Linked DNA regions of Homo sapiens. The protein of the gene in region 6 purifies or fractionates together with the protein of the main gene of each other region. This does not show direct contact. Each region holds a gene or a part of one and is shown on either strand. Other genes may lie near its edges. The genes, in order: MAN1A2, PODXL2, KCNJ8, ULBP3, PCYOX1L, CD1B and DIPK1A.

What was found.
Region 1: the proteins of CD1B (region 6) and MAN1A2 purify together in Homo sapiens (affinity purification with mass spectrometry; 3 studies listed by BioGRID and IntAct, with this or other methods). This does not show direct contact.
Region 2: the proteins of CD1B (region 6) and PODXL2 purify together in Homo sapiens (affinity purification with mass spectrometry; 3 studies listed by BioGRID and IntAct, with this or other methods). This does not show direct contact.
Region 3: the proteins of CD1B (region 6) and KCNJ8 purify together in Homo sapiens (affinity purification with mass spectrometry; 3 studies listed by BioGRID and IntAct, with this or other methods). This does not show direct contact.
Region 4: the proteins of CD1B (region 6) and ULBP3 purify together in Homo sapiens (affinity purification with mass spectrometry; 3 studies listed by BioGRID and IntAct, with this or other methods). This does not show direct contact.
Region 5: the proteins of CD1B (region 6) and PCYOX1L purify together in Homo sapiens (affinity purification with mass spectrometry; 3 studies listed by BioGRID and IntAct, with this or other methods). This does not show direct contact.
Region 7: the proteins of CD1B (region 6) and DIPK1A purify together in Homo sapiens (affinity purification with mass spectrometry; 3 studies listed by BioGRID and IntAct, with this or other methods). This does not show direct contact.

What each region holds. Positions count from the first base shown.
Region 1 is NC_000001.11:117,524,449-117,526,910, reverse strand, and holds part of MAN1A2 (mannosyl-oligosaccharide 1,2-alpha-mannosidase IB), read right to left. Parts: 3' UTR 1-2,462. UniProt on the Homo sapiens protein: Involved in the maturation of Asn-linked oligosaccharides. Progressively trim alpha-1,2-linked mannose residues from Man(9)GlcNAc(2) to produce Man(5)GlcNAc(2).
Region 2 is NC_000003.12:127,642,685-127,646,184, forward strand, and holds part of PODXL2 (podocalyxin-like protein 2 precursor), read left to right. Parts: intron 1-3,500. UniProt on the Homo sapiens protein: Acts as a ligand for vascular selectins. Mediates rapid rolling of leukocytes over vascular surfaces through high affinity divalent cation-dependent interactions with E-, P- and L-selectins.
Region 3 is NC_000012.12:21,768,207-21,771,706, forward strand, and holds part of KCNJ8 (ATP-sensitive inward rectifier potassium channel 8), read right to left. Parts: intron 1-3,500. UniProt on the Homo sapiens protein: Inward rectifier potassium channels are characterized by a greater tendency to allow potassium to flow into the cell rather than out of it.
Region 4 is NC_000006.12:150,060,553-150,063,337, reverse strand, and holds the end of ULBP3 (UL16-binding protein 3 precursor), read left to right. Parts: 3' UTR 1-2,285; downstream 2,286-2,785.
Region 5 is NC_000005.10:149,364,546-149,368,045, reverse strand, and holds part of PCYOX1L (prenylcysteine oxidase 1-like isoform 1 precursor), read right to left. Parts: intron 2,105-3,500; coding exon 1,893-2,104; intron 687-1,892; coding exon 546-686; intron 54-545; coding exon 1-53. UniProt on the Homo sapiens protein: Likely to have oxidoreductase activity. Required in the mevalonate pathway to regulate prenylation and enhances the bactericidal activity of neutrophils.
Region 6 is NC_000001.11:158,328,732-158,332,842, reverse strand, and holds the start of CD1B (T-cell surface glycoprotein CD1b precursor), read left to right. Parts: upstream 1-1,311; 5' UTR 1,312-1,419; coding exon 1,420-1,480; intron 1,481-1,780; coding exon 1,781-2,047; intron 2,048-2,712; coding exon 2,713-2,991; intron 2,992-3,194; coding exon 3,195-3,473; intron 3,474-3,828; coding exon 3,829-3,922; intron 3,923-4,111. UniProt on the Homo sapiens protein: Antigen-presenting protein that binds self and non-self lipid and glycolipid antigens and presents them to T-cell receptors on natural killer T-cells.
Region 7 is NC_000001.11:92,874,463-92,877,962, reverse strand, and holds part of DIPK1A (divergent protein kinase domain 1A), read left to right. Parts: intron 1-812; exon of another isoform or gene 813-1,002; intron 1,003-1,532; coding exon 1,533-1,667; intron 1,668-3,500.

The DNA.
Region 1 (2,462 bases), about 41 Mb from region 6:
CATATATATATATATATATATATATATATAGAGAGAGAGAGAGAGAGAGAGAGAGAGAGAGAGAGAGAGGAAAAGATAGGACCTAGCCAATTTGAGTATAAGGAAACCTAAAGAAAAATAACTCAAAATACTATTACTAGGAACTGTTATTTGGAACTTTGAATATTTTAGTATATTTTTCTTTATATTTAACAGCATGGGACTATTAATAGGGCCCATACCAGAGCAGACACAATTTACAACTGCAAGTTTTACCCATGAATTATGTGACAAAATCTTTTTGAATATAAAATAACCAGCATTTCTATAAAACACTGCTTTTTAATTATGCAATTAAAGTGATATAGCAAAATAAGAACGTTTTTATTTCTAAAGTAAATATTTTAGTCAAAGTTGCATCAGAAATCAAGTATTTCTTTGACATTTTCAAGAGGTTTTAGTTATTAACTACAATTATAGTTGTATTATACAGTAACACATTGTTTTAAAATATATTATAAACCTTTTCTTTTTCCTCTTTAATTTATATGAAATATAAAATTAAGAATTTTGTAACACGATTCATATTGGAAACATTTAAAATGTTGTGAGCTACTCTCATACAGAAAATGCTGTGGAATCACATAAAACATTCTAATGATTGAAAGTGCCAGGCACAATGCTTGGCACATGTTAGATACTTCATAAATGTTCGTTCACACATTCTCTCATTTACTCATGCACTCATTCAAAAAACTCCAGGCTTAAGGAGAAACTGCATTATAAATGAGAATGGCAAACACAATCTTTTATCAACAAATTTGGAGTTTTGACAAAGACTTTGGCAATGGAGAGTGGAGAAGATGAGAGGATGATGATTAATATTTCAAACTGCTTGGTTAAAATCTAGCAAGTATAGCCCTGAGTTGCTCTATATGACATCATAGAGGATCAGGGTCAATACTCCATAAAAAGAATGCATTTCCCTTCGATACCCAGGTTTTATTTTACATATAAACACCTGCTTAAAGTCAGGAATACGCTGATGTTAGAGAGATACAAAATGTGCAACCCACAAGAAAGTAAGAACCACCTGACTGGGGACTTATTTTTCTGAGTTGAGACTTCTTTTTGGTTAGGGCCCCATTCCCTTGGTTTTAACAACTTAATACTGGTTGAATAATAATAATAATAATAATCTGGTTTAACATAAAAAGTGTGATTCTAAAATGAAGAGAAATAAATGTAGAAGGAAGAACAGTGTTCAAAATTCCTATTTTTTTCGATTATGCACCAACTGATGTATCTATTCTGCACATTTGTGCCAAAGGCACAAGGTAAGGTGTCAGCTCTTTGAAGAGGCACCTGAAAAGGACCATTTCTGGGCTTTTTGCAGAAGATCTTATAAATGCAATGAATATTTAACCTGAGTATTAAGGTCTACAAAATGCAAAGAGCTGTAAAAGACAGAAGAAAGTAAAGAATATTCTTGGAAGCTAAGCATTATATGGGATAAGAATTGATCTTGAAGGAAATAATTTAAAAATCTATAACAAAAATAAAACATGACACTGGCAAGTCATTTGTAGCTGACTTTAATTGCCTTTGGTATTCAGGAGAATAAAAAAATGGAAGTACTTTTATAAGCTCTAGTCTTTCCATCACATAGAAGGTAAGGAGTGGTGAAGAAGACCCTTCCATTGTCCCTGTCAAATTCTTTGTTTGTACCAGAACTGGCTCTGCTTGTATACTTCCCTGCCTTCTCTTAAGCTTCAGTCATCTGGGTAATACAAATAGAGCACTTGGAAGTAGGGGTTCTGTCTCCTCATCCCTTGAGAAGTTCCTGCAGAACCAAGAAGGTCCCTTTACTCTGCATTCTTCTAAATAAGGTAAAAGAGAATTCAGAGAGTTCATTGCCATCTGCACTGCTGCTCTGCATCTTTGCCAACTCAAGTTTTTCACTTTTTCTCAGTGATTCATAAGTGGGCTTGTGCTACTTTTACGAGGAAGGCTAACATTTTTTAGAACCAAATACTTTCCCTTTTCCCTTCTACAGTTACAGTAATATATATACCTTTCTCATTTAGAAATTTAAATGTTCAAGTAGTAAAAGATATTACAATGTCAAAACATGTGCTATAATTTAACTCTCTTAAGGACTATTGTAACTGGCCCTGCATCCTTATTTTCTACTGAAATTTTTTTGCAGTGAAAAATTTTATACTGAAAAAATTTGCAGTGGTTATCATTTACGGATCAGTAGAACTGTCAAAATTAACGATTCGTGGTATAAGATGATCAACCTTAGAAAATACTATATTAGTTAATTAAGTCTTTCCCCAACTTAAAACCTAAGTTTAAAAGAAAAGCTTATCAAACAAGAAAATAAGCCTTCAGAATTCCAAGGTGGGCTTCTTGTACAAACTTTGTTTCAGGAAATCTTCAAATTCAGAGTAAATGTTATACTAATTATACTGTTTCTA
Region 2 (3,500 bases), on a different chromosome or scaffold from region 6:
ATATGTACAAAACATATGTGTACGTTCATTATATACAGAATATGTGTATTCTATAGAATATACATATACACAAAAATAGTGACCACTTATCACTCTTCTTTTTTATTTGAAGCACAGTGTAGTTAAGAGAACAGGCTTTGGAGTCAGGAAGGCTCCAGTGCTGTCATTTAACAGTGATGCAATTTTTGGCGAGTAACTAACCCTAAGCCTCAGTTTCCCATCTAGGAAATGGAGATAATTATATACCTACCTCACAGGGTTGTGAGGTTCACACACCATCATACATTTCGAGCACTCAGCTCAGTGCTTGGCACATTGTTAAGTGCTCTGTGACTATTAGCTATTATTATTACTTTCCTGTTTTTTTCTATTGAGTCTTTAATTTTTTCTTATCCCTGTACAAATCTGAAAAAGGATACTAACTTTCCTCTGACATACGTAGAAAACATTTTTCCAGTTTGTCAACTGCTTGTATTTTTATTATAATTTTTGGCATAAAGAAATTAAATATTTTATAAGCTTAAAATTACTTTTTTTTTCTTCGAGATGGAGTTTTGCTCTAGTCACCCAGGCTGGAGTGCAATGGTGTGATCTCAGCTCACTGCAACCTCTGCCTCCCAAGTTCAAGCAATTCTCCTACCTCAGCTTCCCAAGTAGCTGGGATTATAGGCATGTGCCACCACGCCCAGCTAATTTTGTATTTTTAGTAGAGATGGGATTTCACTATGTTGGCCAGGCTGGTTTCAAACTCCTGATCTCAAGTGATCCACCTGCCTCAGCCTCTCAAAGTGTTGGGATTACAGGCATGAGCCACCACACCCAGCAAAATTACTTCTTTTAAAATGTTTTTATGTGTTTTTCTTTACTTTATGATTAGAAAATACTTTCTGCCCTTGAGATACATGCACCTTTCTTCCTTCTATTCTTTTTTTTTAATGTAAATTCTTTTTTTAAAATTATTTTTATTTTTTGGACACAGGGTCTCGCTTTGTACCTCAGGCTGGAGTGCAGCAGCACAATCTCAGCTCACTGCAGCCTTGACCTCCTGGGCTCAATCGATCCTCCTGCTTCAGCCTCCCAGGTAGCTGGGACTACTGGTGTACCCCACCACGCCTGGTTAATTTTTCTGTTTTTTGTAGAGACAGGGTTTTGCCATGTTTCCCAGGCTGGTCTTGAACTCCTGGGCTCAAGCAATCCACCTGCCTCAGCCTCCCAAAGTGCTGGGATTACAGGTGTGAGCCAGCACGCCTGGCCCCTTCTATTCTTTAGCTTAATTTTTTACATTTAAGTCCAATCTAGCTGTAATTTATTTTTGTGTGTGGTGTAAGATAAGGATCTAATTTCATTTTCTCCATATAGATCATCTATTGTCATGGCGGCATCCATTGATAAATCTGTCCTCTTATCATTTTAAAGAAATGATATTTTGTTGCTGTTGTTGTTTTGAGATGGAGTCTCACTCTGTTGCCCAGGCTGGAGTGCAGTGGTGTGATCTCTGCTTACTGCAACCTCTGCCTCCGAGGTTCAAGTGATCCTCCTGCCTCAGACTCCCTGGTAACTGGGATTACAGGCGTGCCACCATGCCCAGCTAATTTTTGTAATTTTAGTAGAGGTGGGTTTTACCGTGTTGCCCAGGCTGACTGAACTCCTGACCTCAAGTGATCACCCACCTTAGCCTCCCAAAGTATTGTGATTACAGGTGTGAGCCGCTGTGCCTGGCCAAGGAATGATTTAAACAAACTTTTACATTGTACCAGACAATTATTGGGTCTTTTTCTGGCCTTTCCCTTTTGTTGAGACTATTGAGCGTCTAGTGTGAGGTAAGCAGTCACGCAGAGAGCATTGGCCTCAGGACCACAGTGGAGGGCCCTGAAGCCTTGATGAGCTCGATTTGTTGTCCTCCCCCCTCCCCAGGGGATTCGTTTCCCTTTCTTTTTCTTTCAGTTCATGTCTCTTCCTCTCCCATTTCCTTCCCTAGGTCTCATAAGAATAAAAATAGCTCTCATTCATTGAATACCGGCTATGCATAGGCCTTTGCCTCGATTGTCTCTAGTCCTCACCACAGCTGCATACAGCTTGGCTGTGAGGTGGAGATACCAATCACCCTACCCAGGATGGGCAGAAGGCTAGGGAGGTGCAGGGAGGAGGCCAGGAGGCAGAGGAGGTGCAGGGAGGAGGCCAGGAGGCCAGGCAGGTGCAGGGAGGAGAGTTGCTTCAGTCCTGTCCCTCATTGCTCCTCTCTTGACCTGTCCCCTCGCCTTACGTTTCCTCAGGTCAATCTCTTCTCTGTACTACCTGACCATGATCCTGTGAAAAAACTGGAGTTGCCCATCTTCTTCTCAAACAAACTAGCAAACAAACCCCTTCTCAAACCCCAAAGCCCACAGGTTAAAGGCTGAACTTATTAGCATGGCAGAAAATGCTCTTGATAGTCCGGCCCCAGCCTTCCCCAGCCTCTTCTCCTTCCTTGCTCCAGCATGCATCTGATTAGCTCATCATCAGCTTGTTCTCTTCCTTGCTTGGCAGAGTTGAACTGAGGCATGGGGAAGTAGGGTGCTTTGCCCAAGGACACATTGCTTGGATGTAATGGAGCTGGATCTAGAGTCAGTGTCTTCTCACTGACAACAGCCTGGCCTATTCCCTAAGCCTGTGATGCACTTGTTCCTCTTGTCCCATCTGCTGGGAAGCTCTTCTCCATCCTGATGTGCTAGTGGATATGTATTCGTCCTTGAGTACCTAGCTCAAGAGGACTAGCTTCAAGAGGCTTTTGCCAGCTCTGACCAATGAGCAGGACCAGTGCACGTGGTTATGCTGGTGGTGCCCTGTCCGGGGCTCCTGACCGAGCATGGGAGTTGGAGCTGAAGTCCAGCATACACCCTGCCAACCAGGCCATGGGCTGGGTGGGAGGAGCACCTTTTTCTAATTCATTTGCCCAGAGGGGACATCTCCGTGTACTGGCAGTGGCCCTGAAATCAGGCTAGTGACCCCTGCTTCTGTTTTCTTGCAGCACCTTGATGGCATATGATTAGGACATGACAGAAGAGAAAGTGGCTAAGGTGGCAGGCTGACAGCGAATAGTCAGGCTGGTGTAGGAGGCAGCCCAGGGGACAGTGGCGTGCCCTACCCCCCTATTCTTGTCTGCTCTTGTGCCCCGGAGCCACAGGCTTCTGTCTAGGGGTTCTTGGGGAGAAGGAGGTGGATCACCTCTTGGGGGTTGGAGGAGTCAAAAGAACCTTGAGAGGGCATGCCTGGGTTGGGAGTCCTGCAGAGTCCAGATTGACTGTGCCAAGTGCTATCCTAACATGGCCATTAGGGACATTGAACTCCATGCAGCAGTAGCAGGGACTGCTGAAAACCATGCTGCAGACAGGCCAATCTCAGATCAAGTACAAGTACATCAATCAATGTATTCAACACCCAGTATGTGCCCAGCACTATGTTAGGGGTTGTGGGTTCTCATTTAACGTCCACTGAAAAATGTAAGTATATATTCTTACTTC
Region 3 (3,500 bases), on a different chromosome or scaffold from region 6:
GGAGGCAGAGCTCAGGAGGTAATGTTTGCTCCCCCACTGCTCACCTCCTGCTATGTGGCCTGGTTTCTAACAGGCCACAGACTAGTACTGGTCTGCAGCCCAAGGATTGGGAACCCCTAGTTTGGGGCACCATGAGCCATGCCCATATAAGATGGCAAACAATCGATAAATGTGTGTGTTCTGAGTCCTCCACTGACCAGCTGTTCCCTTGTTTCTTCCCCTTTCATCAGGATTTCCTATTCCCTGAGACACAGCACTATTGAAATTAGGTCAGTTAATAGCCCTACAAAGAACACTAAGTGTTCGAGTAAAGGAAATATTCGCTGTCTCTCACTTTAAATCAAAAGCAAAAATGATTAAGCTGGTGAGGAAGGCAAGTCAAAAGCCACGATAGGCCAAAGTTTAGGCCTGTTGTGCCAAACAGCCAAGTTGTGAACAGTGGAAAGAAAAAGTTTTGAAAAAAATTCAAAGTGCTACTCCAGTGAAGACACAAATGATAAGACAGCAAAATAGCCTCATTGCTGAGATGCAGAAAATTTGAGTGGTCTGGATAAAAGACCAACTAGGTCACAACATTCCCCTAAGCCAAAGCCTGAATTAGAGCAAGGCCCTAACTCTCTTCATTTCTATGAAGGATGAGAGGTGAGGAAGCTGCAAAAGAAAAGTTTAAAGCTAGAAGAGATTGGTTCAGGAGGCTTAAGAAAAGAAGCCACCTTCAAAACAGAAAAGTGCTAGGTGAAGCACCAAGTACTGATGGAGGAGCTGCAGCAAGTTATCCAAAAGATCCAGCTAAGAAAATTAGTAAAGGTGGCTGCACTAAACAACAGATTTTCAGTGTTGAAAATGAAACAGCTTTCTATTGGAAGAAGATGTTACCCAGGACTTTCATAACTAGATAGAAGTCAATGCTTGGCTTCAAAGCATCAAAGTTCAGGCTAACTCTTGTTAGGAACTAATGCAGCTGGTAACATCAAGTTGAAGCCAATGGTCATTGATCAATCTGAAAATCGTAGAGCCCCAAAGTATTATGCTAAATTGACTCTGCCTATGCTCTATAAGTAGAACTATAAAGGCTAGAGGACAGCATATCTGTCTGCAGCATGATTTATTAAATATTTGAAGCCCACTGCTGAGACTTACTGCTCAGAAAAAAAGATTCCTCCAAAATATTATTGCCCATTGACAATGCTCCTAGTCACTCAAGTGCTCTGATGGAGATGTAGAAGGAGTTGATTGCTGTTTTTATGCTTATTAACACAACATCCATTCTACAGCCATGAGTCAGGGAGTAATTTCGACTTTTAAGGCCTATTACTTAAGAAATTTACATTTCATAAGGCTATTGCTGACATAGATAGTGAGTCCTGTGATGGAGCTGGGCAAAGTAAATTTAAAACCATCTGGAAAGGATTCACCATTCTAGATGCCATTAAGAACATTTGTGATTCACGGGAGGAGGTCAGAATATTAACATTAACAGGAGTTGGGAAGAAGTTCATTCTAATTCTCATGAATGAGTTTGAGGGGTTCAATACTTCAGTGGAGGGAGTCACTGCACATGTGGTAGAAATAGCAAGAGAATTAGAATTACAAGGGCATTCTGAAGATGTGACTGAATTGCTGCAATCTCATGATAAAACTTGGATGAATGAGGAGTTGCTTCTTCTGGACAAGCAACCAAAGTGGTTTCTTGAGATGGAATCTACTCTTGGTGAAGATGCTGTGAACACTGTTGAAATGACAACAAAGAATTCAGAAGATTACATAAATTTAGTTGATAAAGCAGTGGCAGGTTTTGAGAAGATTAGCTCCAGTTTTGAAAGAAGTTCTACTGTGGGTAAAATGCTATCAAACAGCATCACACATTACAGATAAATCTTTTGTGAAAAGAAAAGTCAATTGTTGCAGCAAACTCTTCATTGTCATATTTTAAGAAGTTGCCACAGCCACCCCAACCTTGAGCAACCACTACCCAGATCAATCAGCAGCCATCAATATCAAGGCTAGCCCCTCCACCAGCAAAAAGACCACATCTTGCAGAAGGCTCAGATGAACATTAGCATTTTTTAGCATTAAAATATTTTTTGAATTGAGATATGTATATTTTTCAGCCATAATGGTATTACACACTTACTAGATTACAATATAATATAAATGTTTTATATGCACTGGGAAACAAAAGGTTTGTGTAACTGTCTTTATTTTGATATTTGCTTTATTGCAATGGTCTGGAACCAAAACTGCAATATCTCTAAGGTATACCTGTAATTAATATTATACTAACTTGAATTTTCTCACTTTGGCCTAATCCTGTGAAAGAAGCAGAGGGAAGGAACCAAGAAGTTGTAGGATTTTCTTGGGAAGCTTTTTCAAATTGCACATCTACTCCCTATCTTAGTGAATAGACATTGATTTGGTAGGCTGAGGTTGGATCTGGGTAAGATGCTTTTGAAAAGTTCTCAGGGGATTCTGATTTACTCCCATATGGGAAGCACCACATTTGTTACTATCAATTTATAACACTTAATTTCACAACAAGTACTGCTGTGGCTTCTTCATAGAAACAATATTAGTTCTATCTTTGCCCCCAACCACAATTTCAAACTTCTCTAACTTTATAGAAGACAAGCCTACACATTAGCAATCTCTCAAAGTATTACCTATTTATTAATGCTACAGACAGCAGGTGAGAAAAATGTTTAAACATTTGAGTACTTGGTATGTACAGTGCACTTTGGTAGAAAATTATGAGGGATAAGCAAGAATACATGGATTATTCTTTTGATTAGCTTTTAAGTGAAGTGCGAAAGTTGCCTTTCTCTTTTGTTGCTAAAATGATTCATGGAAAACTACAGTAATTGCCTATTGCACTAACTACCCACAAAAAGATATCTGGTATAGCCCCAAAACATGGCAAGAATAAAAATGGACCCCAGAGAAGGGGTATGGATACAACACTGATTTCTGATAATGTATCCATACCTCAGAGAGCAGTCTAATGATAAATATCCCAAATAGTTTGTTTTAATGGTTTAAGAGACTATTCATGAGCCACATTTTGTATATTGTTTATGAATTCTAAATATTACATATGGTACAAGACCCAGCTTTTTACTGACACTTGCTATGCTAAACAATCTCAAGAGATAAAAGTGTTTAGCTGTTTCTTTGTTCTGTTACAGAAAGAGGTAGGCTGGATAATATCGAGAAAGAGGAAATATATTGGTCTATTTTTTGACTCATATTAAATGGAGTCAAAGAGACTCCTTGCAGGAGAAAATACATGGAGGAGAAAATGAGTCACCCTAAGAGAAGAATGGTCAAACATTATTTGGAAATACTGGTGAATATTCAATGAAAAATGTTGTTTCCAATTTTAGTGATATGGTTGGACATTGAATTCACAAAGGGAAAAATGCAAAGAATTAGAATTATTATTAGTCACCTTTTACATTCTCATTGGGAGAGAATGAAGATTTTTAAGGTTTGCTGTTACCATT
Region 4 (2,785 bases), on a different chromosome or scaffold from region 6:
CAAGAAGCCTCTGTTAGCCTGGTCTGGTTCCTGCTCTCCCTTCAGGGAGGCCGCCTGTCTACTCACCACTGTGCCTTTCTGGAAAGCAGGAGTTCAAGCCTTAGCAAGCCCAGAGGCCCCCAGCAGATGATGAGGACATTGTCGGCTCAACATCTCAGGCCACTCATTACCTTCGCTCATGATCCCAGCAGCCATTTTTCTTTTTTTTTTTTTGTTTTTTTTTTTTTTTGAGACGGAGTCTCGCTCTGTCGCCCAGGCCGGACTGCGGACTGCAGTGGCGCAATCTCGGCTCACTGCAAGCTCCGCTTCCCGGGTTCACGCCATTCTCCTGCCTCAGCCTCCCGAGTAGCTGGGACTACAGGCACCCGCCACCGCGCCCGGCTAATTTTTTGTATTTTTAGTAGAGACAGGGTTTCACCTTGTTAGCCAGGATGGTCTCGATCTCCTGACCTCATGATCCACCTGCCTCGGCCTCCCAGAGTGCTGGGATTACAGGCGTGAGCCACCGCGCCCGGCCAGCCATTTTTCTTAACACCTTCTGCCACTTTCTCTCGGTGCTAATGGATGGAATTCCTGCACAAGTTTTAACTGAACAAGAAATCCCAGCAAAAGGCATTTTCTTTCTACTTCTTTGATTGTGGAAAAGCAGACATTTCTCTGAAGCATGACCTTATTCTTCGAAACGGTATTGCTAGTAAAATAGCATGCAGGACTTCAGACCTCAGGGATCCTTTCCATGCACTGACCAAGAATTGTATTAATCCTTTTTATCATTATAGTTTTTTTACATTTTCTCATTCTGTCAACCATATTGGAGTGAAGTGGCATAGTCATCACTCACTGTAATCTCCAACTCCTGGGCTCAAGTGATCCTCTAGACTCAGCCTCTAGAGTAGCTGGGACTACAGGCGCATGCCACCATGCCTGGCAAATTGTTTTATATTTAGGTAGAGATTGGGTCTTCCTATGTTGCGCAGGTAATAAAACTGTGAAAATCCTGGAATATAAGCTAAGAAATACCAATGTGGACATAGGGCCTGGCAAAGATTTCATGAAGAAGACACTAAAAACAATTGTAACAAAAACAAAAATTGACAAATGGGACCTCATTAAACTAAAGAGCTTCTGCACAGAAAAAGAAACTAGCAACACGGTAAACAGACAGCGTGTAGAATGGGGAAACTATTTGCAAACTCTGCATCTGACAAAGGTCCAATATCCAGAATCTACAAAGTACTTAAACAATTAGACAAGCAAGAAAAAAAAACCCAATTAAAAAATGTGCAAAGACATGAACAGACACTTTTCAAAAGAAGACATACAAGTGGCCAACAAACGTGAAAAAATGCTCAATATCACTAATCATCAGATAAGTGCAAATCAAAACTGCAATGAGTTACCATCTCTTACCAGTCACAAAGTTGGAGATGGTGGTGAGGCTGCAGAGGAAAAGAAACAGACACTGTTGGTGGGAAAGCAAACTTGTTCAGCCGCTATGGAAAGCAGTTTGGAGATTTCTCCAAGAACTTAAAATAGAACTACCATTCAAGCCTGCAATCCCACTACTCGGGATATATCCACAGGAAAAGAATTCATTTTATCCAAAAGACACCTGCACCAATATGTTCATTACAGTGCTATTCTTACTAGCAAGGACACAGAATCAACCTAAGTGCCCAGCAACACTGAATTGAATGAAAAAAATGTGGTACATAAACACCATGGAAATCTATGCAGCCACCAAACACAGCAAAATCATGTCCTTTTCAGCAACATGGATGGAACTAGAGGCTATTATCCTAAGCAACCTAATGCAAGAACAGAAAACTACATACTGCATGTTCCCATTGGAAAGTGGCAGCTACACATTGAATTCACATGAACCAGAGGCACTGGAGATTACTAGACAGGTGAGACAGGAGGGGCACCTGGGCTGAAAAACCACCTGTTGGGTACCATGCTTACTGTTTGAGTGATGAGATCATTGGGACACCAAGCCTCAGCCTTCCAAAATCTACCCATGTAACAAACCTGTATGTGTACCCTTTAATCTATAATAAAGGTTAAAATTAAAGATTCGTAAGTAAAATAAAATGACATAGAGCCCTCCAAAAAATGGGGTTAACTGAGTGGAACGAGAGAACTTTGCACTATGAACGCTAACCCAGATCAAAAACTAAACTCTAGTCATTTAAAATAATCGTAAGTTGTATATGATGATAATTGTATAAAAGTTATACGTGAAAGTGCCAAACCCTAAAATTAAACACTGCATAATGAAATTATACAAGATTTCCATTTCCATCTTGTTCTTTATACCCTTACTTTTTTTTTTTTTTTTTTTTTTTTTTGCCAGTTTCAAGTGACATTTTTTTTGTTTATCCTCAGGAAATCCTTGCTGTCAGCCTTCTCCTTCTACACCCACCCCCTCCTTTTCCACCGTCCACATCAGCTCTTCCTCTGGTCTGGGACTGTGGCATTCTTGGCACTGAAGGCACAAGAGCTGCATTCAGCCTCAGGAGAGAGGAGGACACAGGGCAGGTTGTGGAGGTGGTCTCACCATTGGAGGGGAACCTAACAGCTTAGGCCCTCTATCACAGATGGCTGTGTTTCTCCACCAGGTTAGCTACAACCAAGCCAACCTTGCCCCTTTCCTCATTGTTTTTTTTCTAATTCTTCCCAACTCGTACTTGAAAATTTATATTCTTCCTCCTAATATTTCTTCGTATTTCTTGTCTGCACAATATATCCTGATTTATTGTGCCCAGAAAACAGTGGACTCACC
Region 5 (3,500 bases), on a different chromosome or scaffold from region 6:
AGAGCTGTTGCCTACCTCATTCTCATACGCCACCTGGTACAGGGCTTTCCCCTCTGGAAAGAAAAGAGCACAAAAGTCAACTTTCCCTTGGCTTCTACCCACTGAACTCCCTACTGGGGTCCAGCATTGAGGTACAACGAGACCCTGGTGCTCAGGGTGCAGCAGGGCTGTCTAAATGGTGGGTCCTGGCCTCTCCATGCTGATGCGGCTGCAGAAGAAGCAAGGGGCATGGAGTCAGGAGACTCAGTTTCTGCTCTGCTTCCGCCGCTGGCCAGTTGGGGGAGCGTGGGCAAGGATGTCATTCAAAGTCCTCATCGGTCAACAGAAAAAGGCTGGGTCGATGGAAGTCTCAGCTTTCTGGCTGACATCTGAATTGGGGAAACAGCACCCTCTAGTGTCACCTGGCAGGGTTGGGGCTTCTCAATGCTTTTTCGGAAATACTCCCCAGGGGGATCACAGACCAGGGCTGAGGTACAAAGGAGGCAGAAGTGTCTGTCCACTGGCTGGGAATGGCATGCCTGCCCACTCCCGCCCTGTCTACTCACCTGTGCTGTGCAGGGTCACAGAGGTCACTGTGGCATGGATCACATTGGCCTTGGTGAGCTTCAGCAAACCGGAACAAACCAGCTTATTGCCTCCTTCCACAGACCACAGGCTGCCTTGGGCCCCGGCTAGTGACATGGCTCCTGGGCAAAGCGGGAAGTGGGTGCTGATAGGTTGTCAGGGCCGTGGGGCAGGAGGGCTGGGGAGTCCAGTACTATTCGACTGGGCCTCCCTGCCAGAGCAAAACTCTCCCAACCATGGGCATGGGGAGATGGCAAACATACAAGTAAGTACAACAAAGTGCACAATGCTATGGGGGGAAGACACTGTGCTCAACGAAAGAGCCAGCTCCCAGAGACCACATATTGTGAGGTCTATTTATGCAGAATGCCCAGACTAGGCAAATCCACAGAAACAGAAAGCAGATCTGTAGCTGCCCAGGGCTGGGAGGCCGGGGGGTGTTGGGGAGGTGAGGGCTAAAGGGCAAGGGGGTTTCTTTCTGGGGTGATAAAAATGTCCTAAAATTGATTGTGGTGATGGTTTTAGAACTCCGAATGTGCTAAAAACCACTGAATTGTGCAATTTAAATGGGCGAATTATATGGTATGTGAATTCTATATATCTCTACACAAAAATGCTATGAAGGAGACACACAAGATACTGAAAGAGTGAGCAAGGAACACTGAGGGGACACTGAGGCAGGGCCTGAAGGCTGCGAAGGAGCCAGCATGTGCAGAGCCAGATGAACAGTATCGAGGGTACGAGGGAGGTGCTTGTTATTGTAAACCTTTGCATTCATTTATTTAACAAAAATATACCCAGTGCCTAGTATGACTTAGGCACTGTTCTGTGTTTGCAATGTATCAGGGAACAATAGACAAGGATTCCTGCTCTTGTGAAGCCTACATTCTCCACTCCTGTGGTCTGTGCTAGCAGACAGTGAGCTACACACAGGCCCAGCCACTCCCGTGAAGAGCTGGGAAGAGGAGGTGCTCTCACAGTGGCTCAAAGGCCTCAACAGGGCAGTTCTTGAAACCAAAGTGTAGAGAGCAGAGCATTATCTCAGCTCTAACATTTACACACATGCAAGGGATTATGAAGCAATTGGGAGTGGTAGAAACACACTGGACCTGTGATCTGAGCCTTGCTTTCACTGTCTGTGAAGTGGGGTGATACTATCTCCTGCCAACTCATGGCCAGTCCCAGAATCAGGCAGGATGGGGCAGCAGAGTGCCTATGTGACTGCAATGAGCTGGATAAAAGTGAGGTTATTATGGGGACCCCCAGCCCATTCTGAGCACCTTGGGTGGAGGAGGGGCAGGTGGGCAGGCCAAGGGTTGGACGCTTACCTGCAAAGGCGGGCATCGCTGCTGACTGGCCATAGCTGGCCCGCAGGACAGCAGAAACGACATCATCAATAAAGCGCTGCGTGACGCCCACCTGCAGCAGGGACTCAGCCACAGAGTGCTGGGTCATGTTAACAAAGGTGGACTCCCCCAGTGAGTAGAGCAGCTCCTCCACACCCGAGAAGGCATAGCCGTGGGCCTGGTACTTATAGATCCTAGAAGACACATAGAGCTGGAGTCCTTGTGCAGGAAGGCTTTTTGCCTGACCACCTGCCCCTGGGTTATAGTGCCTGGGAGGCCCACCAGGAACCCATCACTTCCTCTACATGGAGTGGTGGCAGAAGAGGCTGGTCATGTTCCCTGGCACCTGTTCTCTGACTGTGGCGGGCCTGTCCCACCTAAAGGGAGTGTGAAGGTATGGAATCCTTCTAGGCCTGGCTTCACATCACGGCTGTGCTGAGTAACAACTGTATCACTGCTCTGAGCCACTCCCTGCCTGAGGTCATAGTTCATAACCCTTTCTTCACCCAGCTGGGGCTACGGCCCACCCCTGCTGACACATCTCCTTCTCCAACAGTGTCGGTTCTGCCACAGCTTCTAGGACCTGATGACACACTGCAACTTCATGCTGATACTGTCACCTTCTCTGCCAGTCCAGCCTGTCCTCTCCTCTCGCTTCATCTGACAGGGCTCCCACTCACCCCCAGGCTCATGTCCTGTCGCTCTATCACTCATGCAATCTCACTAGCATGGATTGGAACCATCGATGGATTTCCTGACTGGCTGGCCTTTGAAATGTTGCCCATTCTAGGGCTTCTTTTGTAAACATGTTGAGTTTGGTTATCAATAGGACACGAGATGGAGGTGTCCAGAAAGTTGAAATGTGGGTCTGGAAGTGAAGAGGAAACTAGGGCTGAGAGGGAGAAGTCATTTCCCATAAAACGTAGAAGTCAACATTATTGGTCTGGATATAATTGATAAGGGAGAAAAATATCAGAAAGAGAGGTAAGGAAATAAGCTTTGGGTGACATCTGGAGAATATAAGGAAGAAGTGCTATAAACAGCAGAGTTATAGAATGGGAAGGGAGTGGAGAAGTGCCAGGAACCAGGGCAGGAGGGCACAGGCCACACTTGAGTGACACTGAAGGGAGGCAGACAGTGATGGGGTCCGGGGAGCAGCCCCTGCGCCTTAGGCTGGAAGCAGGGAGCACCTTCAGGAGGGACTTTGGGGAAAGGTGGAGTGACAGCTTGGTGAACAGGGAGGGAACAGACCACTTGCCCTCCACATCTGGGACCAAAGGTGATGGGGAGGGGGCTGGAGCCCAGGGATAGGAGGAGTGGTGAAGAAAGGTGTTTATTCTAGATGGAAAAATGAGGACAACAAAGTTTGCAAATGAGTGGTCCACAGGCTGCATCTGCCCTGCAGAAGTGTTTCATTTGGCTTACAAGATGAATTGGTTGCAAATGTTGAAAAACTGAAAAGATTTCACACACGACTCTGGATTTCCAGCTTCTTCTGAAAAGTGAGTAGATCTAGCCACATGAGGTGGGCATTGTACACGGCTGGCTGCAGATGGCTGCGGTGGAGGGCTGGCTGCCTCCTTCAGAGGG
Region 6 (4,111 bases):
GAGTCTGGGAATGTTGTTAAGAGATACATACATTGAAATTTGGAGAGCTGCTCTGTATTTATCAATTAGGCAGTAATAATCTTGGATGAAGGCTAGTCTTATTAATGTTGTGAACCAGTCTTATTAATGTTGTGAACCAGTAGTGTCCCCAGGAATAGAGAACACTACACTACTCACTTTGCATTTTCTTATCCACATAATAGAATTAGTTAGTGATAACCCTCTTTACTCGGAATCGATTGCTGCCACATTTCTGCATGATACATAGATCTCTGCAAATATGTGATTTTTTTCCTAAATGGAGAAAATCCAAAAATTCTTCTTAAAATTTTTCATGGGCATACAAGAAGATAGGAGGTGACATCTTAAAACAAGTATCTCTGAACTTTTTGTATAAAAAAAAGCAACCTCTTTGCTCTATTATTAATACCACATGTGGTGATATGAATGCCCAAATGTAGACAGCAGTTATGAGATATTACAAGAGAAGAAAAAAGCTCTGCCGCTTATGGCAACTTACCCAAAAAGTTATCTTTGACTTAGGCTGGAGGTGCACATAGCATAGCTCCTAGAGTTCTGTTTATGTCATGAATATTTGTTACTCAAAACTCCATAGGCCAAGAGCTCCTGAAGAGAAGGTCACATGCTAGCAGCAATTGTCATTTTTTCCCTCAAATATTGCTATAGTATAATTTTGTTTGAATTATAAACTTCAGTCTTTATTATATTTGATTCTGGCATTTTGGTTTGTAGTGCTATAGTACAGGAAATGTTTTAAATGCTTTGCCTTTATGTAAGTGAATATCGGTACACACACATACACATACACACACAGACACAGACACACACACACACACACTCACAGCCAGTTTAGAATGTGGGGTAAGGAACACCAGACAAAGAGGGCAATATAAGAAAGAGAAGACATTGAAAACATTGGGAAGAGGCAGTAACAGAGTGCCAGAGAAGATAAGGCAGCTGGGAGGGGGAGAAACTAAGTGAGGTGGATAAACTAAAAGCATCCTTCTGGGTTAAAGCAGACTAAAAGCTTAGCAATTGCTTAATATCACCATCTTATCCTATAGATGTGGGAATAAAGGCTAAGGAAGGAGAAATGAAAATGCAGAATCATATGGGGGCTTTTCCAAGGAGGTATGAAGGAAGGTGAGGACAGGGAGAGCGGCTGGAAGTCAGGGGGTAAGAGAAACTCTAAAAATCAGGGCTTGAGGGAAATAAAAGGTGAGGTAAGAGGCTCAGGGCTGTGGGAGGCACATTTTTCTCTGAAAAGCAGTTTGGATGAGGAAGAGATTTGGCAGTTGGAAGAGAGAAGAAGTCACTACAGGGTACTGAGGAAAAGCTTTGCTGAAATTGGAGATCAAATACCAGCTCTGCCAGTAAGAAGTTGCATCTCCCAGTGAAATGCTGCTGCTGCCATTTCAACTGTTAGCTGTTCTCTTTCCTGGTGGTAACAGTGAACATGGTAAGAGTCACTCTGGCAGCTCCCAGCACTGGTGCAGGGGTTTGGATTTTAAAAAGCAAGCAGGGCTTTCCTAGGTGCAATTGGACACTAAGGGTCTGGGTCTTTCTGTCTCCCGCCCTCTTCAACCATTCTGGTGGTTGGGACTAGAACCTGAAGCCTTAAGGCAGTCAAATGTGTCAGACTTCCTGTGTTCTTTAGACTCTAGGTTCTTGTTTTCTAAATCATTTTCATTCCCATTCTTCCTAATTGTCTCCTGCTTCTCTCTTTATCTTCACCATCTTGCTTTTCCACTCTTCACAGCCTTCCAGGGGCCGACCTCCTTTCATGTTATCCAGACCTCGTCCTTTACCAATAGTACCTGGGCACAAACTCAAGGCTCAGGCTGGTTGGATGATTTGCAGATTCATGGCTGGGATAGCGACTCAGGCACTGCCATATTCCTGAAGCCTTGGTCTAAAGGTAACTTTAGTGATAAGGAGGTTGCTGAGTTAGAGGAGATATTCCGAGTCTACATCTTTGGATTCGCTCGAGAAGTACAAGACTTTGCCGGTGATTTCCAGATGAAATGTGAGTCTAGTCCACCGAACTGGGAAGAGTCTCAAGGACTCTCTTTTCTCTCTTTTTTGCAAAGTGTTGCTCTCTCTGATGCTTCTCCCTTCCTTTCTATTTTACCCAAATGCACGCACATGCTTTTCTTGAGTAGTCTCTCACTCCAGCTTCACACCATCACACCTCATATTTCAGATTCTTGCTGCCTCTGCACTCTTCTCTTACTCTCAGACTGTCTTCCACTTTGTAACCAGCTGCTGGTTTGTCTTATGTGAAACTTCTCCTCAAGGGCCCTTACTTCTCCTACCCTGTGCCTGAGTGATCTAACGTGTGGCTTTCTCCCCTAATCCATCTTTTCAATCATCTCCTCCCCGCACCCTCCTCTTGCTGGGAACCTCCACTCACTCTGGAATGCTGCACTCCTGACTGCACCACGCTCTGCCTCACCTCTCCTTTCATACTCACTGTACTCCTTTATCACATACCTTTGTCTTCATGGCATGCACATTTTTCTCAATGCTCTTGTTTCTGAAAATGTCTAAATGTTATCATTAGTTTTTAGCTCATCATCATTTTACACCAAATAACTTTATCCCCACCAAAATCTAAAATCCTAGGTTCTTTTCTCATGCCTTTTTTTCTTATTTGTGTTTAATAACTTGCTCTCTTTTCCCTCTACATAGACCCCTTTGAGATCCAGGGCATAGCAGGCTGTGAGCTACATTCTGGAGGTGCCATAGTAAGCTTCCTGAGGGGAGCTCTAGGAGGATTGGATTTCCTGAGTGTCAAGAATGCTTCATGTGTGCCTTCCCCAGAAGGTGGCAGCAGGGCACAGAAATTCTGTGCACTAATCATACAATATCAAGGTATCATGGAAACTGTGAGAATTCTCCTCTATGAAACCTGCCCCCGATATCTCTTGGGCGTCCTCAATGCAGGAAAAGCAGATCTGCAAAGACAAGGTTAGTCCTGCTGTTATTTCACTTCCCACCACCTCCTCTAAGATCAAGAGTAGGAAGATATCAAAGGATAGGAGCTTAAATAACAAGTTATTTGGTTCCCAAAGGAGTGAATGGGGTCGCTGTCCAAGCTTGTAGGTTTCTGAGTTCATAACCTCTGAACTCGAGTTATAACATGACACTTTTTTTTCTCCTTCCTGCCTTAGTGAAGCCTGAGGCCTGGCTGTCCAGTGGCCCCAGTCCTGGACCTGGCCGTCTGCAGCTTGTGTGCCATGTCTCAGGATTCTACCCAAAGCCCGTGTGGGTGATGTGGATGCGGGGTGAGCAGGAGCAGCAGGGCACTCAGCTAGGGGACATCCTGCCCAATGCTAACTGGACATGGTATCTCCGAGCAACCCTGGATGTGGCAGATGGGGAGGCGGCTGGCCTGTCCTGTCGGGTGAAGCACAGCAGTTTAGAGGGCCAGGACATCATCCTCTACTGGAGTAAGAAATAGCAGGGACCCAGGCTGGAAATGCCAGGAAGTGATCTTCAGGCATAGAGGGAGGCACTGGGGAAGGATAGAGCTTGAGAGATGAAAGAGGGAGAGATTGATTGATTGATTTCCCTGACCCCAATCCCAACAGGAGTAAAAATAGATAATCCAAGTTATCAAAAATGTAGGAATTAAGGACCTGTAAACTGGGTAGAGGGGATCAAAGGATGGATATATGGTGGCCAGGAATATGAGAGAGGAAGTTGGAAATGACCATACATTGGAAGTAGGTGGGCAAAGGAAGGCCAAGGAATTCTGTGTATAGTATCTGAAGTGACATCCTTTTGTCCTCTCTCAATTGCCAGGAAACCCCACCTCCATTGGCTCAATTGTTTTGGCAATAATAGTGCCTTCCTTGCTCCTTTTGCTATGCCTTGCATTATGGTATATGAGGCGCCGGTGAGTTGTGGGTGGTGTTGTTTTTTTTTTTAATATGTCTTTTCTGTTCACCCTTCCACTGTTTTTTACCATTTTATCTATTTAAAAATTGTTTATCCTCAATCCTTTCACCATATCCTTTCCCCAAACTCCCATTCGTTTTATGTGGACTTAAAAAAAATTCTGTTAAAATACACATAACATAAGGTT
Region 7 (3,500 bases), about 65 Mb from region 6:
AATTGATTTAGCTAACATTTGCTGAATACTTACTACGTGCCCAGCAATATGCTTATGTTTTATAGGCATTATGTCATTTAATCTTATTTAGGTTCACAATATTAGTACATGTCGATTTCTGTCTGATGACCAAACCTCTTATTAGAGACGAGTCATCTTAAATATCTTTCAAACAAACCCCATGGTATATACCCCATTGTCTTTTATGTGATTTAATTTGGAGTTTAATCTGAACTTTCTTTTTACTTAGAGCAATACAAAAGTATCTTGCATTAAGGCACTTTTTCATTTTAATAATAAAGCTCAGAGACCTACAATTTTACTGAGAACTCATTGTACTCAAGCCTTTTGGTACAGGGATTCACCATCTGTTAACCTCACAAAGATATCTAAACCACAAATAGGGCCAATAGAATTCAGTATTTCCTGAGTCTCTTTTTCCTTTGCACTCATTGTCTTCTGCAGGTGTGCTTATGTCTCTCTCATCTCTTTCTGCTTCTTTGCATGCTCACAATGCTCACAATATCCTACTGTTCCCAGTGTGAGAAACTGGCTCGTGATTGTAAAAGCAAAACTAGCTTTTCATTGTTTGTTTACATATCTTTAATTTATTCTGCCGAATTCTCTTCGTAGTCCTCAGTTCTGCTGTTTATAAAACCAGACCATGGGTGCTACAGACTCAAAAAATAAATGTCAAATAGTCTTGATCAAGTGTCACTTTTGAAGATGAAACTGTTTGATATGTAATTGATGGAAAAAAGGCATCAACCAGCCCGAGTTGCAATTAGATACAAGAGCACTGGAAACAAAACAATGCAAAGAGGATCCTATTGTGCAGCTTTACACTTTGCAAGTTGATATGCAAAGAGTAACTTATTTTTAATATATCTTAACCCTTCTCCAGTCATTTCTCCTTTAACAATTGTTAGCGTCTCCTCAGTTTCCAGAATATCTATTCGGTGAAACATTTGGTTCGCTGAACAAGAGGAACATAAAGCCCTGGTGAATACAATAGGGAAATAGAAATGACTGTAGAGCTTAATTTCTTGTTCTGGTTGTCAGTATGAGACATTAGACAAATAGCCAGATTTTCTGTTCTTATTTCTTTAAAACAAAATTATTTTTATCATGATTTTCCTAAAGACCTTTAAGATTCTTATGTGAAAGAGTCTTTTGTAAGCTTCTAGTAAATAGGAATTGTACCTCTCTTTACCTGATCTCACAAGGTGCCCAGGGTAGCATGGTACATGTGCTTGTGCCTAAAAAGTAGCTTTGGATGATGGTGGTATTTGAAAGGTTATACATCTTAAAGGATATTTTGTTCCCTTTTTCCTTGGCAGGACCAAGGAGCTTCCTTTTCTAAGACCAGTGCTGTTTGGACTCAGTGAAAGTGCACTTTGTTCTAGAATTGCCATATAAAAGCCTGGAATATATATTGAGTTGTTCCAAGAAGGGTGAGAAGTCGTGTTCTAGGACATTGAATGCTGATTTGGTGCTGAATGAATGATCGTTATGTTCTTTTTTACTCACAGGCTCGCTTCTCATATGTGCGGATGAAATATCTTTTCTTTTCCTGGTTAGTGGTTTTTGTTGGAAGCTGGATTATATATGTGCAGTATTCTACCTATACAGAATTATGCAGAGGAAAGGACTGTAAGAAAATAATAGTAAGTATTTTAAATTTCCTGTTTACTAAAAAGCCTCTTCATAACACTATATTTACTGCTTACATACTTACTAATGATGTTTTTAAAAATAAAAGTTAATTTGACATTAGAATTGTGCTAATCTTCTTAGCTTTTTGACATGACCCATTAGTAAAGTTTTCCCCACTTTGAAAATTCCAGTGTTCAGAAATTTAAATATATAACACATAAATAAGTTAGTGTGGGGGCATCCTCAATACAAAGAAGGATTTTTATTATATATATATATATTTTTAATATATTTAAGTTTTAGTTTATTTCAATCAGATGAGTTTTTTAATGTTTAGACTATAAAAGCGTATTTACAGGCAGACTTTCTAGAACACATCTTTTACTCTTGAATACCAAAATTTATCTAAAAGGATTATTATTCTGTTTCTATCCTAGTGATTGGATGTATCTCAGAAAAATGACTGTATCAGTCTAAGATTTCTAGTAGTGATCATTAATTCTATAGACTTATATTTTAAAAATTTGAGAATTTCAAGTAAATTTAACTCCTTTTTTTCCACCAGTACTTTCTCTCTTTTTTTTTTTTTTTTTGAGACGAAGTCTTGCTTTATTGCCCAGGCTGGAGTGCAGTGGTACAATCTCAGCCTACTGCAACTGCCTCCCAGGTTCAAGCAATTCTCCTGCCTCAACCTCCCAAGTAGCTGGAATCACAGGCTCGCACTACCACGCCTGGCTAATTTTTGTATTTTCAGTAAAGACGGGGTTTCACCATGTTGCCCAGGCTGGTCTTGAACTCCTAGCCTCAAGTGATCCGCCCTCCTTGACTTCCCAAAGAGCTGGGATTACAGGCATGAGCCACCGCACCTGGCCTCTACCAGTACTTTCTAATATAAAGAATATTAAAACACTCCATCTCAGAATTATATTTGAATAGTAATGATTTGGAGGGTTCCAATTATTATAACTTGTTAAAGATTCTATAGTTGTTGAGTAGCTACTCTTTACCCAGGCCAGTGGTGTATGCATATAACAGGGAGCAAAATATCTTTGACCTTATAAAACTTACAGTGGATCAGGAAAGAAAATGAGTAATTACAGTAAGGTAAGATAAATAAGATAGCAACTGTTATGGGAACATAAGACGGAAACCTGGAGCTTCCCCAAGTTCTAAGAAAATAAAAACCAGTTTAACACAAGGTGCTTCATCAGTTAGGATACAAAAACACGTTATTCCACAGGAGTGTTACAGTCTTTTAACTAGGCAAGAGAGGGGAATGAGTTAGTAAAGAAGAGTCCTAAGTCAAGGTTCAAAGATAGCAATCCTGTGTTCATTCCAACTGGCCATTCTAGATCCTTAAGGAATTTTAAGATAGGAGGTATCTCTGGGGCCAATGTACTGGGTACTTTACATGTTCATTAATCCTTAGCATAATAGTGTACAGATAAAGAACTATGACCCAGAGAGACAGGAGAATTTGCCCAAGATGATGGAACCAGAATTTGATCCTAATTCTGTCTCTCTATGAAGCTCATACTCCTTCTGCTACCCTACATCAGAAAAGACTGACAGAAGAAGTTACAGTCTAATAAAGCTAATAAAACCCCACAAAACTCAGTTTCTAACCTTCAGTGAAGAAGGAGGAAACAGGAGGTAGATAATCAAGTTCAAAAACATACAAATAACCGAAACTATTTGAAATGTTTATTTCTCTTTCTCTAGGCCACCTTTCTCAAACTAGGTACCTTGGAGCACATTAATAGATATTCCATGGATAAAATATGTCCCTGGTCAGATGTATTTGGAAACAGAGGGTTAAATAAAGATAACAACTGACTTTACTA